2 separate regions of the Homo sapiens genome follow, and region 2 is linked to region 1. A link means that fine-mapping ties the variant in region 1 to the expression of a gene that starts in the linked region. Tissue or cell type: subcutaneous fat. Region 1 holds a variant in brackets; the other region holds the start of a gene. All regions are shown on one strand. Distances are from middle to middle.

Region 1 (8,104 bases):
GATATTGGTGTAACCATAACTGGTCCTTTCAAGCACTTTGTGGGAATGCTTCCTGAAAAAGATTGCTGCTATGCTTTATATGATGCAAGCTTTGAAACGAAGAAATCCGGAAGAGTATTGTTTGTTTGTTTGTTTTTGTGGGCACCAGAACTACCACCTCTGAAAAGTAAAATGATCTTCACAAGCTGTAAGGATGCAATCAAAAAGAAATTTCAAGCAAATGGACCAGAAGATCTCAACTGGGCTTGTATTGCTGAAAAGTTAGATGGGTACTTAATTGCAGCTTTTGAAGGATGCTCTGTGTAGGCCATCATTCAGTGCCACAAATGGAAAGCTTCCATGTTTAATGTTATCCGCTTGCTATATAAATAAAGCAAACATATGTTTTTAAAAAAGAGAAAACAAGAGTAGTGCTCAGATAGAATGTGTAGCTCATGGAATTCAGTACTGGGAGTCATGTTTAGTTCCTGGTGTGTGCATTTGCTAAACAGGATTCCACTAAACAGCCAAGGATACATACCCTCTTTTAATTAAATAATAGAAGCCACATGAGCATTGTCTTAGAGTTTGGGGAGAAAATGTGTAACCCTAGAAATTATGCCCATTCGTGTATTATCAATGTGTACAAGTCACAGAAAGACATTTTGGAAAGTATATTGCCCAGGAACTTTTTCTGAAAAGGGTGATATGGCTGAAAGGATTCAGCCAAAAGAAAACTAAATTCAAGTAAAATAAATTAAAAATAAAACGAAGAGAGCTTCTATAATAAAGAAGCATTTTCTGTGAAGAGGCATTTATGTAACTATTGATAACAATGAAACCCAGTTATAAATAGTTAAATCTAAATATTTCTGATAATATGAAAAAGAAAGAGGTTTGATGTGAAAAATTAGTAAGGAATTAAACATACATATTTTTCCAACACTTCGAGTCATATGGGGGGAGAAGTTACAGTGTCCAGAATTTTGATGATCTGAGAGGTAAAGAGTTATTTAAACAAAAATAGTTGTTAGGCTGGGCACAGTGGCTCACGCCTGTAATCCCAACACTTTGGGAGGCTGAGGTGGGTGGATCACTTGAGGTCAGGAGTTCGAGACCAGCCTGGCCAACATGGTGAAACCCCGCCTCTACTAAAAATACAAAAATTGGTTGGGCATGGTGGTGCGTGCCTGTAATCCCAGCTACTCAGGTGGCTGAGGGATGAGAATCACTTGAATGCGGGAGGGAGGTTGCGTGAGCAGAGATTGCGCCACTGCAATCCAGACTGGGTGACAGAGCAAGACTCTGTTTCAAAAGAAACAGTTGTGGAAGTGATAAATGCACAAGGTAAAGACATTTGAACCTGAGAAAAGGCGTGCAATTAAGAGTAATGAAAGGTAAACCTTCATCCTGGGCTTTCCCTTCATTGCTCTTCTGAGATGGATTCACTCTTTCCTGCCCTTGTCTTTCTTTGATTTCCTTATTTTGTTGGAACACATCCTAAATACGATGAAAGGTATGTTTATTCTACCATTTTGCTGTATTGGTGATTGAGCTAGGTCTAGAATTCTAGAACTTTAAAGGCTTGCTTTTTATTTTCCAGCCCCCAGGATTGCTGATGGCATTCTGACACCTTTTTGTGTGTGTGTGTGACAGCTTTTACTGCTGTTATCATTTTTGTGTGTGTGCCTGAAGACTTTAAGATTGCCTCTTCATTTTTGGTGTTCTGAAACTTGACCATGACGTGTCTGGTTGTAGGTCTTTTTTCCATTCAGCCTATTTAGTAATTGGGGAGGGGAGCTTTGAGTGTCTTCAGTCACCTATGTGAATTAACCCAGCCCTTTTTCTTCAAATATAAATGGGCCACCATGGACCACCAGACATTTCTGCAAAACCAACAGTAAAATTGAGAAGGACTAAGATGAACAAACAGGAAAAAAAAAAAAAACAGATAGCATTAAGGGAACTGAAAGTTGTAAAGTGCTGACTGGTCTCTCTCTCTAAATCCATGACCACTGAAACCTCAAGTAGCTCAGAGTGCTGCTCAGCAGCTGTCCTTCTTTCCCCATTCCATCTGCTCCCCTAGGCGATGCCTTTATAGCTTACCTCTTTCAGACCTCCAGTGCAGTCTCCCCATGCCACCTCAGCTGATTACCTTGCTCCTTACTTTCTTGAGAATTAGAAGTGCCAGAAGAGAATTTTCATGAGCTCCCATTGCCAGATCCACTCAGTCTCCTGACCCAGTACCCACATGCCTTGTCTTCCTTCCTATTTGTGTGCAGTAATTGTCTCTACTCTTAGCTCAGGCTGGCTCTTTCCCTGAAGCCCTAGATCCTAACCTCTCTCCGCTTCTTAAGAACATGGCTTCACCATTCTCTGCCTTCTCTCCTGAATCATCATTTCTCCCCTCTCTACTGTATTATTCCCATCTGCAAACATGCTGTTATTTTTCACATCTTAAAAAACCACAAAAAGCATTTCCACCTTCCCCTCCAGCTACTGCCTTTCGTCTCCCATTGTCTCTCTCTCTGTCTCTCTTTTTGAGACGGAGTCTCACTCTGTCACCCAGGCTGCAGTGCAGTGGCGCAAACTTGGCTCACTGCAATCTCTGCCCCCTGGGTTCAAGCGATTCTCCTGCCTCAGCCTTCCAAGTAGCTGGGACTACAGGCACACGTCACCATGCTCAGTTAATTTTTGTATTTTTAGTAGAGACAGAGTTTCACCATGTTGGCCAGACTGGTCTTGAACTCCTGACCTCAAGTGATCTGCCCACCTTGGCCTCCCAAAGTGCTGAGATTAGTCTTGAGCCACAGTGCCCACCCCCATTCTCCTTTAATCAAGATTTTGCCCCCACCACTCTACCCAAACAAATCTTGTCAAGTTCAACAATGACCTCCTTATAACTAGACCCAAAGGTCAATTTGCAGGCCCCAGATTCCACTGGATGCAGGGAATCATGCCACCTACCTTGAAGCACCATCTTTACTTGGCTTCCAGGACCCCTGCACTCTCCTGGTTTGCCTCTGATCTCACTGGCAGCTCCTTCTCACTCTCTATTGGTGGTTCTCCCTCCACTGTCCACCCTCCTAATATTGGGATCTCCAGGACTCAGTTCTTGATCTATTCTCTTCTTTATCTACACTTCATGAATTTCTTTTTAAAGTCCATGTATATATAATATCTATAATCCTAACTTCTTTCCTCTGATCTCAAGGCTCATGTATTTCACTGCCTTGTAACATCCCCTTTTGGATCATAGGCATCTTATGCTTAGAAAGTCCCAAATTGAGCTCTTGACCTACCCCTTACCTCCAAAATAGCTTCTTCCACAGTCCCCCTCATCCCTCAGTAAATGCTAATTCAGGTCTCCTAGTACTCAATCTGAGAACACAGGAATCTTCTCTTTTCCTCACTTGACACATCCCATGCATTATGTATTATATAAAACTTACCCATTATATATCCAGAATCTGACATCTCATAATCATCTCCATTTAGCTGGTCCAAGCTATCATCGTTTCACACCAGAACCTTCTGAAATAGTCTCCTAACCAGAGTAGCCAGCTTGTCACAGTTTGCCTGGTACTTTCCCAGTTTTTGCACTGAAAGTCCAGTCTCAGGAAATCCCTCAGCCCTGGGCAAACCAGGATTATTGATTATCCTACTTCCAACTGGAATCTTCTCTTCTTCCGTTGCCTCCTTACAGTCTATTTTCAATACAGCTAGGGTGATTCTTTTAAAATGCAAATTTTATTATGTCACTTCTCTGTTCAAAACCCTTCAATGGCTTCCTACCCAACTTAGAAAGAAAGCTATTGCTTTCAGTGGCCCACAAGACTATAGGATCCACAGGCTTGTAGGAAAAGATGGAGAATTCAGCTTTGAGCAGGCTGATATTGCAGTACTGTGGAATGTTCAACTGGCAATGTCCAAAATTGAATGGAGTATCAAGAATATCTTCTGTTTGGAAAACAAAAATAGATTGCTATGGAAAAACTTGCAAGAAAGAATTCTAGGAAATTAGAAATATTTGTTAAAATGAAAAAAATCAACGGTAGACCTGAAAGACAAAATTATAGATGCTCTGTCTGGTGATACTAATGATATATTCATAAGTAATATGCATATGATATAGTTATATATTATGTAAGATAAAAATATATAAAATACATATAAATAAATTTATTAAAAAATACATTTGCAACATGATGCACCAAATTCCCAAAATCTTCAGCATGCATCTTTCCAAACCAAGGACACTCTTCTACATAACCAGCATACAACT[C/T]TTCCAGTCAGGAAATAAGAAATCAGCTCTAACACTAACATCTAATCCAAAGAATATATTCATATTTTGCCAGCTGTCCTAACAGTGTCTCTTTCCTGTCTAGGCCAGGATCACACTTTGTACTTCATACACAAGTCTCTTTAGTCTCTTTCAATCTGGAATAATTCCTTGGTCTCTCCCTGTTTTTCATGATCTCATTAGTTTGAAAGAGTGCAGACCTTTCAGTCTCTAGGACGAAGCTCAGCCTGGTTCCACCAATGTTTCCTCAGGACTGGATTCACATTTGTGTTCTGGGAGTGCCGAAGCTCAGCCTGGTTCTACCCATATTTTGTCAGGACTGGGTTCACACATGTGTTCTTGGAGTGCCAAAGCTCAGCCTGGTTCCAGCAGTGTTTCCTCAGGACTGGGTTCACACATGTGTTCTGGGAGTGCTATACGGAAGGGAGGCTGTCCTCTTCTCACTGCATCACACGAGGGGGCATACAACGTGGGCTTGTCCCTACACTGGTGATGTTCATCTTTAGCACCTGGTCATTTTGTGTCAGGTTTCTCCACATTAACTCATCAATTTTCTATTTGTAATTGATGAACATTTTGTGGGAAGATATTCTCAAACTATGCCAATATCTTGTATCCCATTAAATCTCCACTAACTTGACTTAGTAGTTATTGATTACTTTTGCCTGAATTAACCACCATTATGGCGGTTGTAAATGGTGGTTTATCCATTATCATCATTCCTACGATATATATTAGCTGCTATGCTACTATAAGGAAGACATTTCCCTTTTCCTCCACTTACTTTTTTACTTTTTAAAAAAATTACTCATACTCAATCCTCTACTTATTTTTATTGACATAGACTCATGGATTCCTATTTTATTCAGCAGATTTAATCCATTACCATCAGTATTTATTTTAATATCAAATTATTCCAGATTTGGCTAGAGGATAACCATTGAAATTTGTACCTATGAGCTATAGACATGCCCCCATCATTCTTTGAGTAATTCTTTACTTTCTGGCACAAGAAAATGTTTCAGGTTCATCTTGTAATTTCCCTGCCTTGGCCTCAGAATTACTTATTTCTACAAGAAGTGCTAGAGTTGAGAATGATATTTGGAGACTATAATCTAGGTACTTGGTTGCTTATTGCTTCTGGGCCTTCCTGCCTCATATTGGCGTAGGATGGGAAAGTCAGGAGCTGGGGACACCCTCCCTCTCTCAAGAGCAAAGTAATTTCTCAACTTTCATAGACCATAAGACTTACTCATCACTGCATCTCTCTGCATCCTCCTTCTTTTAATCAGCTTCTTTGCCTGCACGTGGGTCTCTGTGCCCATCAGCCTTGAGTCTGACCTGACTGCTGACCTGCCCACCATTATTGGCTACGGAGTCTGCAGTGCCCAAACTGTGAGAGCAATAATCTGCATGTCTCTGTCCAGTCTATAGATTGGTTCATCTTGGGCTTGGGTTCTACCTCTAGTCTAATCACTTTTTGTCAGGGCAGTTAGCAATGTTACAATAGTGGCTGGGACAGCCCTGACAGAGCTGTAGAGAAGATGGTGCAGTTTCTCTAGGGAGGAATGAGTCCTGTGGAGGACCCTGACTACATCTGCCACATTCTATAGTCATACATTAGGTTCTTATAGAAAAGTTTTTAGATTTTCAGAAGTGAGGACATTTGGTAAAGGTTCTGTGTATCTGAATATTAAGGATCATTTTGGGTTCATGGATCAGTTATTGGGAAACACTGATCTAACTCCAGCACTTCAGTTTCTCGGATGAGTAAACTGAAGGCCAGAGAGAACAAGAGACTTGTCCTCATGTACATGGCCTGTCAACAGCAGATCTGGGATTAGAACCAGGGCTGGCCATCCAGTGAGGCGAGAGAAACATCTAAGAAGCAAAATGTAAGGAAGCCCTCACCGTCAGGATCATGCAAGTGCCCTAGGGGCTTCCCTTGACTCACCCTAGGCCCAGCCCAGATTAGAACTCCAGGATCCTGCTTGCCAGGAGGGAGAGATCACAACTGGCTTGCGGTGTATGGGTAAGAGGGACTGATGGGGAGTTTTCCTGTGTTGCCACCTTCAGGGAGAAGGAAGTTCCTGAGGAAGGCTGGTTAAGCTAGTGTTCCCAAACTGAAGGATCCAGTAGCTTGGGATGGCTGCTCACTGGAGAAGCTTGAATTATCCTGCATGCACAGAGCACTGAGGCCCCTTCAGTCTGGGTGGAGAGTTCCTGGCCTGGGTTATCTTTAGCTGGTTGCTGAGAGTTGCAGCATTTCTCAGCCCTGGTGATGGACACTTCTGTTTTCCCCCGTCTCATAAAAATAGACCTTCCCTCCAACCAGACCTGCCTTGTTAGATCTGTTCTTACATAGACAGGACGTGTGGGGTTTGTGCTTTTTTAGCCTCCAGTCTGGTGTCTGCTTCCTTCATGTGGAACTGCTTACTAAGAATTTTACCACAGGAGGATTTTAAGAAAGTAAATGTTGGCTTTGTTGTTGGTTGAGGTTAAAAACAAAACAAAACAAAACAAAAACAACAACAACAACAACAAAACCATCAAGATAGTCAAAAGAAATAAAGGAGAGAAGAACAAAAGAGAAACAGCTGAACCATTTTGTGACCCTTTTTCTGCTACTGCCCTGGTCAAAGGCACAATTTGTTCTCACCTGGATTCCTGCTGCATCTCACCCTGATTTGGTGTGTGCTCAACAAGGCAGCTGTTAGCTAACATACAGATTAGGCAAGAAAATGAAAATGAAATAAAAGGCATTCAGATTGGAAAGGAAGAAGTAAAACTACCTCTATTCACAGATTATATGATGATGTGTATCCACTAAATCCACTGAGAAACTGTCAGAATTAATTAATGAGTTTAGCAAGGTTATAGGATATGCAGACAGTATGTAACAATCAATTTCTATAACTTTGCAATGAACAATCCAGAAATGAAATTAAGGAAACAATATTTATAGTAGCATCAACTAGAATAAAACACTTAGGAATAAGGTTAACAAAAGAAGTGCAAAACTTATACTCTAAAAACTACAAAACAGTATTGAAAGAAATTAAAGAAAACTAAATAAATGGGAAGACATCCCATGTTCATAATCAGAAGAAAATAAATATTGTCTCAAATACTTAATAAATATTAAGCATTAAAACAGCAATATTCCCCAAACTGATCTATAGATTCAATACAGTTCCTATCAGTATCCCAGATGACTTTTTAATAGAAATTGACAAGCTGATCCTGAAAATTATATGGAAACTCAAGGAACCCAGAAGAGCCAAAAACAATCATAAAAAAGAAGAAAAAATTAGGACTAATTCTTCCTAATTGCAAAACAATAATCAAGACAACATAGTACTTACTTAAGGATAGACACATAGATTAATAAAACAGAATTCAGAGTTCAGAAATAACCCCATTTATCTATGGTTAGGTGAACTTTGACAAGGATGTCAAGACTATTCAATGGGGAAAAATGAGTCTTTTCAACAAATGGTGTTGGGATAACTGTACAGCCCCATACAAAAGGATGAAATTGGACCCTTACATTGTGTATAAAGATTAAACCAAAGTGCATCAAAAACCAAAATGTAAGAGCCAGAATTATAAACTCTTAAAATATTGGTATAAGTTCTCATGACCTTGAATTTGGCAATGGATTCTTAGATATGACACCAAAAGCACAAACAACAAAAGAAAAAAAATTGGAGTTCATAAAAATTAAAAACTTTTGTCTTTCAAAGGACACTACCAAGAAAGCAAAAAGACAACTGATAGAATGGGAGAAAATATTTGTAAATCTAGAAGATATAAAGACCA
Region 2 (8,100 bases), 110 kb before region 1:
TGCTGGGCACCACCTCCACCTCGCGCACCCTCATGGTCTTCATATTGAACACCTCCAGCTTCACGGGCTTCTCCACATTGGCTTTCAGTAGTGCCTTCAGGGTGTCATTCTCCTTGTTCTGTGGGGGCAATGGGGCTGACTCCAAGGCCACCTCATGCCCAGGCTAGGACCCTCAGACAAGTCTGGGCCTGAGATGGGGCAAGGGCCTTAGTGGGCAGCAGCCCTCAGCAGGGTCACTGTGGGGATGGGCCAAGGTAGTGGATGGGCCAGGTTCACAGACCAGGGTTGAGCCTGCAGCCACTGGGACCCCCACCTTCCCCAAGCACTGCCAAACCTTCCTCAGCCTGCCAGAAAAAACAAAGCAAGCAAAAAGCCTCCCAGATCCACAGCATTCCAGTGCTGCCCCACTCTGAGCTGCCCCTTGGCCAGGGCCCTCATATCCCTCATGCCCCAGGAGGCAGGCCCCTTGGGCCTTGTTGCCACCTCCAAGAGGCCATATGTCCTCTGTCCACCCCACAGAGCTCAGAAGCTGAGCACTGGGCAGGGCCCCAGTCAGGCTCTGAGTACAGCCCTGGAAGAAGGGGAGACAGGGCTGGGACTCCCTTTAGAAAAAAAGGGAGGGAAGGGTAGACTGGGGCCCCCTGTGGGACAGATGAAGACACACAAACACACATAAGCAAGCAAAGCAGAGGCAGGTTGGGGAACTCACCAGCCTCGAGTGCCCAATGGTGATGATGAAGTCAAAGTAGGGCTCCAGGCCCGCCTGCTGGGCTGGGGAGTTCTCCTGCACCTATCCCACAGCAAAGACCACAGTCACTGCGCCAACCCTGGGACTCTCCAAGTAGCCCTCTCCCCCATTTCAGGAACCATCAGCACTCCCAGTGTGCCAGCCAGAACACATGTCTGGCATGAACTGTTCCGGACATTCTCAGGGTTCACTCCATGGCCTCTTGCTACCTTCCTGGGCACAAATTTTCCTCTTAGGAAAATGGCTCCTTCCTGATTATGATCCACAGATGCTTTCAGAAATGGCTCACAGCCCAGGACATCCTTAGGGGCTCCCAGGAGGCAATATGGAGACAGGCTGGCCCAGGCCTGTGGGAATGCTGCTCTAGAGGGCTAGGCTAGGGTTGGCCGGAAAGCCAAAAGGGTTTACCAGAAAGGTTTAGACTGGACCAGAAGGGAGGGCCCTGACGTGCAGTGGAAGTGGGCAGGCCTCGGGAGGGATACACCCAGGGCTGTACCCAGAAAGAGGGAGTGGGAAAAGCAGCTTGCAGCCAGGTCCCAGCTTGCACCCCAGCCTCTGGGGTGGGAGACCCAGGCTCAGTCCAGCAGGTAATGAAAGCCACTGGCAGAGAAGCAGACCCCAGGGGTAGAACTAGGCCTGAGCCAGGGAGCCCAGTGAGTGGGCAGTGCCAATCCCCACAGCCTGGCTCTGGACTGAGGAGCCCCCCAGTGGCTCAGCTGCCCTACCAGCCTCATAGTGTAGCCTCCATGCCTGTGCAGGACACCTCCTCCAGGAAGCATTCCCATTTCCAGGGTGCTCCCTGCCCCTCCCTGAACTCCCCACCTCACTGCTGTCTCCAAAAGCACAACAACCAGGCTTTGCAGGCTGTGGCAGAAATCCATCCCAAAAGCCCCATATACAGAGCCTGGCTTAAACAATGCAGGCTTTGTCCCAAGGCCCTAGACCCGAAGATGGGCCCACACCCTCAGGTCTTTGGCTGCGGGCATTTGATAACCTGTTGGCGTAGACACCAGCCAGACCCAGCCCAGAGGGCACAGGACCTAGGCTCTTGCTGCCTCCTCATGGGAAAGGCCCTGTGGCTCCTGCTACATACCAGCCCCTCCAGGTTTGGATTCCCCAACCTGAAGGAGAGCTCATGAAGACTAGGCTGAGAACAAACCGCTGAGATCAAGGCCAGTTTGCCCCTGGAATTAGGATTCCCTTCTGGCAGCATCACCAACTGAGCCCCTCCTTATCACCTCCAGAAGCTGCCATGGCTTCCAAAGGGAGTGAGTGCGGCCCAGAAATCAGATCTGGGCCTAGTTGGCCTGGCCCAGTAGGCAAGCTGCTCCCAGGCCCCGCTGCAGGGGAGCTCTGGGCCCTGCCCTCTAACCCTTCAGGTGAGGGGATCTTTCGAAAACCACAGGACAGGACAGTTATTCAGGAATAGCTTGGGGACAATGCCCCTCCCTAATCAGGGCCACCTCCAAATCACTCCACGTCAGGTGCCTGCCTACTTCCCTCCCCACTCCCCAGTATTGCATGTCAGCTGCTCTCCATCATGAATGAGGTCCAGAGGGTCAGGCCCCAGGCCTGGCCTCCTTGACCCACCCAATACCTCCACCACCCTCTCCTGTGGCTTTGTCCTCTGCTTGGCTACACTCCACTTCTCTCACCTGGGGCCTCATCACTACTCACTATGGCTCCGCAGCTGAAATAATCTATGCTGCTGCCCACTGTACGGCTCCCCCTGCAGAAACCACTGCCTGCCATCCAGCTCCCTCAGGGGCTCCCATCACAGCCTGCCCCAAGGCCCTATAGTGCTGCTTTTCCTCATGCTCCCACCCTATTTTTCCCAATCAGGGAACCTAATGGAACTCACAGTGATCACAACTTACACTTACTAAGGGCTGGTTGGCTGAGTGCCAGGGCATGGCACCACCTCACCTGCTTTATGTGTCATTTAACCTTTTTAATAACCTCAAATGACAAATGAGACCAAGTACTCAATAATTCAGTAATTTGACCCCAGGAAATCCAACCCAGAGCCCTCCCCCTAACCACTGCCCTCTCCTAACAGCTGTTTCCTGGTGAATCTGCCACTACTCTAAGCTCGCTGAGGGCAGCGACTTCTCCAAAGTATTGGGCACGCAGCGAGGTGCCAATATTTCTAGAATGCAGCACAGCTGTTCTTCAGTGTTGTTAAAGGTAAGTAGGTCATGTCACTCCTCCATTTAAAACCTCCTGATGGTTTTACATCTCAGAATAAAATCTTAAATCTTCAGGACAACAGGCAAGGTCCTACACGGTCTGCTCTGGTCTCCTCCTCACACTGGCCACACCATCCAAGCACACCAGCCTCACCTGGCATTTCCTCAAACACACAAGCACAACCTACCTCGGGGCCTCTGCACAAGCTGGTCCTTCTGCCTGGAATACTACTATTCCCCTAAATATCTGTATTGTCCACTCTTTACTTCCTTCAGAAGCATCTGTTCGAATGTGACTTGAGAAGAGGCCCTTCCTGACCACTCTATCAAAAATAGCACCCACTCACCATTCTGTATCCCCTTAACCTGCTTTATTTTTATCACTGGTAATTACCACCTACCATGTATTTTTTCATTTCCCTTCTTTCCCTACCATCATCCAAATGTCAGCTCCAGAACAGGGACCATGTTTGTTCTGTTCACTGCTTTATCTCTAGAGCCTTAGAATTCTGCCTGCCAGAGTAGGAGCTCAAAACTTTGTTTTTGTGACTGACAACCTCTGATCCCTGGTCCCTCTCCAATTTGTCCCTCTCCATCAGGCAGGCCCCTCCCGTCTTCGAAGCTCCCATCATCGCCCCACCCCTCCTCTTGCCAATATCCTGAGTTCCTTTGCCTTTAATCAAACCTGTTGGAAGACGCTCCTGGCTGGATGCATTCCACTGTCCACGCTTGCTGTTTGGTGTCTCACCATAAGAAAGCCCATTCCCAAGCACAAATCCTGTCAACTCTGGGTTCTCCAAGCCAGCCTGGTTTTCACGTTAAGAAACTTTTAGCCCTCTCATGTGGTTAGCTGGCAACAGACCCTACCTTCAAAACACACAAACCGACAAGCTTGCCTGTCTCCACTCATCTCTGCATCCAGCTGCCTTTCACTAGGGAAAGGGGGGGTGCAGGGACGCCTCTTCCCCGCAGCGCTCCGGGGTCAGAGACCCCCAGCCCCTCTCACCTACATTATAGCCCTTCCCTCACCGCAGGCACAAATCTCCATCCGGCTGCGGGACCCTCTCCTCACCCTCACAGCACACTCCGTTCTAGGAACCCCACTCCGTCTCCACTCTCCGGAAGCCTGCTCGCCCAGACCTCCATGTAGCGGCATCTAAAGGCTGGGACCCTCCCCAGCTGCAAACGCTCTCCTCGAGGATTCTGCAGCACTCTCCCGGCCCTCCCGCTCCCCACTATCCCGTGGCTGGTTTGCACCGGTCCTCTACCCTCGGAAGCCCTTACGACCCTACGACTGGCAGGACGCGCGCCGACGGGCTCCCCCGCAGCTGCGTCCACTCGGTTAACCCCGGCCCCCGGGACTGTCCTCGGCGTGGCTGACTCTCTTCCCAGGCCCAGCACGGAGAGCGGCCCGCGGCAGGCGAGCGTAAATGTGTGCTAAGTGCACGAGTGCGTCCCGACTGGTAGTGGTGCATTCTTCACCCGGGAGGAGCGCCATTCCCGGCGGCCGGACCAGGAAAACGCTCCGCTTCCGGCACTGCTGGCACTTGGGGCGGGCGCTGGGCCCGACCGCGGCCGCGGACTAGCCAGGGTCCGGGAGTCCCGCGAGGCCGCCTCTCCCAGGAGGCTCCCACCGGGCAGGGGGCACCTCCCGCCACCCAGGCGGAAACACTCGGGCCGGGACCCCGCCGCAGTCGCCAGCCAGCCGGCGACCGGACGCCCGGGCGCGGGGTTGCGGGCGCCTCGCCAAGGTCACCGGCGCCGCGGCGGCAACTCACCCCGTGGAGGTGGAAGCCCTCGGCGCCGCCTGCGGGCTGCTCAGCGCTGACGCCCAGGCCCATGGCAGCGGCTCCGCTCGGCACCCAGGTCCAGTCCCGCTGCGCCTACCCGGACCGACCCGACGCCAGTAGCACCGACTCGCTCTCTCGGCGCTCGATTCCTGCGCCTTGTGACGTGAGGCGTTTTGTTCCTCCCACTCCAGACACTGGACGCTCCTAGCAACCGGCTAGCAGCTCGGTTTCCAAGGACTGTAACGCCTTCAACCGCCCGCCGCGATAGAGTGCCCACGACCCTGCCTCGGGAATCCCGCTCTGCACCGCCCCACCAGACCCGGACTCGGAGCCGCGAGCGGCCCGAGATGAGCAGCAATGACTCCTCCCTTATGGTGCGTGGCCCGGGCGCTGTCCGAGGGCTCCCTCGTGACTCCCCGCCCCTGACCCAGAGACCGTCTGCCCTGCTACTCTCCTGCCACCCTTCGCTGTCCTCAGTTATATCAGGCGGTCCTGCCTTTTCTTGCCCCACTCCCCCTGGCAAGGGCGTCTTCTCCGGTGGCTTCTGCGCACCCTGAGCCCCAAATTAGCATCCCCGTTTCTTGAGCTACCCCAAACCAGCTCATCCAATCACTATCATTATCCCTTCTTGTCATCATCCCTTCTTCCACCCAGCTCACTCTCGCCTGCGCCTCCCACCCCAGTTGATGGCTTCACCATTTAATCTCCTAGCCTTAACTCATACCTCTTCCCTATACTCATCTTCTAATCCTGTCTACAAGAAATGCCAGCTCCTTGATGTCTCCTGGGTTTTCTTTTTATCTTTTTATCTTCTAGCCCAGAACCAGCACCATCTCTCCCCCCTGAGAGCCTGCAACAGCCTCCCTCCCATCTGGTTTCTCTGCTGTGGCTCTTTTCAGCATCAGTAGTCCCTGCTGCCACCACGGCACACACCCCCCACATGCAAAAGCAGCCAGAGTGGTTGTTGCAAAAATGTACATCTGAAAACATCCCTCGCCTTAAAACCATTCTGCTTTCTGTTACCCTTAGGATGGTGTCTGGGCTCTTTCATATGGCCCATGAGGATGTTTACAGTCCAACCACATCTGCTCCCAACCTAGCACCCACAAACCTTAGAGGAAGTGAAACTTAACTTTAAAATCTCAGCCCCTTTGTCAAGCTGTAGTTTCCATGGGCTTAAGCTTCCTTAGCTGTGAAAGATACTGAGAGGACCATGCACAGGATAGTGGATATGAAGCCCACAATAACTTGTAACTACAATTCGTATAATTTTTCTTATTATTTGTCCTCATTTTTCCCCCCTTATTCCCTTCCTAAGACAAAGCCTTGGTTGAATTCCCCATCATAGTTGAACCAGAATCTGTTGGTAATCCCCCAAACAAACACCTCCAAACTCTTTCCTGGGAAAACTGCATGGAGCTGCTCCCAGGGCTGTTAGAGGACAGGATGAGGCCTGAATGTTTCCTCTTTCTCTTCCCTTTGCAGAACTGAGGAGGAGCAGGGGATAGGGAAGGGAGCAGGTCTCATCCCATCTGGGACAGAACAGAGACAGAGAAGGGACTGGGCTATTGCAGTTATGTCTTCCTTCATACAGGCTGGGATCATTTACTATAGCCAGGAAAAGTACTTCCACCATGTGCAGCAGGCTGCAGCTGTGGGCCTGGAAAAATTCAGCAATGACCCTGTGTTGAAGTTCTTTAAAGCCTATGGAGTCCTCAAAGAAGGTAAGGACTTGGCAGTGTTGGTCTTGTGACCCCAGGCACTAGCTGGGCCCTAACACTCTGGCTCCACCTGGATGCCTTCTTGTATCCTAGTTATGGTCCCATAAAAACAGTTTCACACTCAGCGGCTGGATTCCCACGGGAATCCACAGAGGCCTACGTAATCCATATCTAGTTGACTTTTGAGACCTCAGAGCGCTGACTATCCCTGCTCTGCACCTCGGGTTCCCTCTCTGTAAAATGAGTGGTTGGAGAGATAGCTGCATGATTCTTGAAGTAATTCCAGGCCTGGAAGCTGAGAACTGGTAATGCAGGCAAAGGAGGGGGAAGAGGTAGGTGTGAGGACAGGTGGGTATGGTACAGGTACAGGGAGAGGAGTGAGACCCATGCAGGTGCAGATGGGCTGACATTCAGAAGGTGGTCCTAGGCTGAGGACTGGCAGAATAGCCCATGGCCAAATGTCTGAGGACATGGAGGGATAAATGTAATCAGTGGCTCTTGAGCAGTAGCTGAGAATGCCCTGCCTGAGGTCCTTCTTCAGAACTGACGCAGCTAATAATTGCAGCCTCACACATATCCCCACAAGTACTCACAGGGTGAACCTTTCAAGTCCAAGATTTCCAGCCCCTAACAGCCTGGACCATGTTACCAGCAACTCTTTCAAAGAGCCCCAATCTTCAGGGAACTTGGGTCACTGGGGACCTTTCAGACCAGTTAGTCCAGCAGGTAGTAGTGCTGAGCTGTTGGGTCAGCTACAGAGTCTCATGTCCTCTAGTCCTGGAGCTTGAGAGTATAACTATGTGGACTGTCTTTGCAGAGCACATCCAGGATGCCATCAGTGACCTGGAAAGCATCAGGCATCACCCAGACGTGTCCCTGTGCTCCACCATGGCCCTCATTTATGCTCACAAAAGATGTGAAATCATTGGTGAGTGCCACCATGCTCAACCAGGCCTGACCCACCAGGGGAAGGAAAGCCCTGCCCCAGAGATAACACAGCCCCTCAAGGGCTGCCAAAGGAGGTATGTGCCCTGGTGGCTGTGCAGATGCTGTTAACCAGTGAGAAGTGGCTGCTGCTCCTCTCCCCCTGGAGGCCTGGGAGAAGACTCCATGCCTGGGCCCAACTGAGTGGAAGCAGGCAGAGCCCATGACAGTGGGAGGGGCCCATGCTCCAGATCCCAAGAGTTGGGGAAACACCCTTCTTCTTTGCCAAGATCTTGTCAGAAAAACCAAGCCAATATATATAATTCTACCCCTAATCTCCACATTTCTAGAGTCAGGGAGAGGGTCCAAGAGAGACTACAGACTACTATTTCCCTACTCACAATAAGTTGTGGGCCTGAGGCTAAGGATTTTGGTTTGGCCTGCCTGCTCAGCACACTGCTGGGCACAGAGAAGAGAAGGTAATCTCAGACAGCACACGTGAGTCCACACCAGGGCAGCCCCTGCAGCATCTCAAGGGCAGGTACTGCTGGTTTCCAGGCCTTGGGCTGCATGCGGTGTGCTGCATATGTTGAAGGAGATCCACAGTGTCTGGGGGAGACCCCGAGGTAGTTCCCTGGGCCCTCGGTGGCCCATGCAGAACCAGGCAGACTTCCACATCCTAACTCTCCCTCTTCCTTCGCTCTTGGATTTACAGACCGAGAAGCAAT

The links. PIP is the estimated chance that this variant, and not a neighbour inherited with it, causes the effect.
Region 2: TTC21A starts here. The variant in region 1 is fine-mapped to the expression of TTC21A in subcutaneous fat (GTEx, PIP 0.97).

The regions. Positions count from the first base shown.
Region 1 is chr3:39,214,367-39,222,470 of GRCh38, forward strand. DSTNP4 (DSTN pseudogene 4) reads left to right here. Exons shown (of 2, transcript XM_047449432.1): 2 at 1-306. The coding sequence ends at 306. Among named protein-coding and RNA genes, the nearest start is that of DSTNP4, 5.6 kb to the left of the region's middle. RefSeq lists a silencer at 6,609-6,708. The variant C/T (reference allele first, on the strand shown) is at 4,265.
Region 2 is chr3:39,102,764-39,110,863 of GRCh38, forward strand. It overlaps TTC21A (tetratricopeptide repeat domain 21A), which reads left to right and starts at 4,917. Exons shown (of 29, transcript NM_001366900.1): 1 at 4,917-5,101; 2 at 6,322-6,451; 3 at 7,266-7,376; 4 at 8,088-8,100. The coding sequence starts at 5,075. It overlaps GORASP1 (golgi reassembly stacking protein 1), which reads right to left and starts at 4,864. Exons shown (of 9, transcript NM_031899.4): 1 at 4,716-4,864; 2 at 710-790; 3 at 1-118. The coding sequence starts at 4,778. RefSeq lists enhancers at 219-718, 397-446 and a silencer at 4,494-4,813.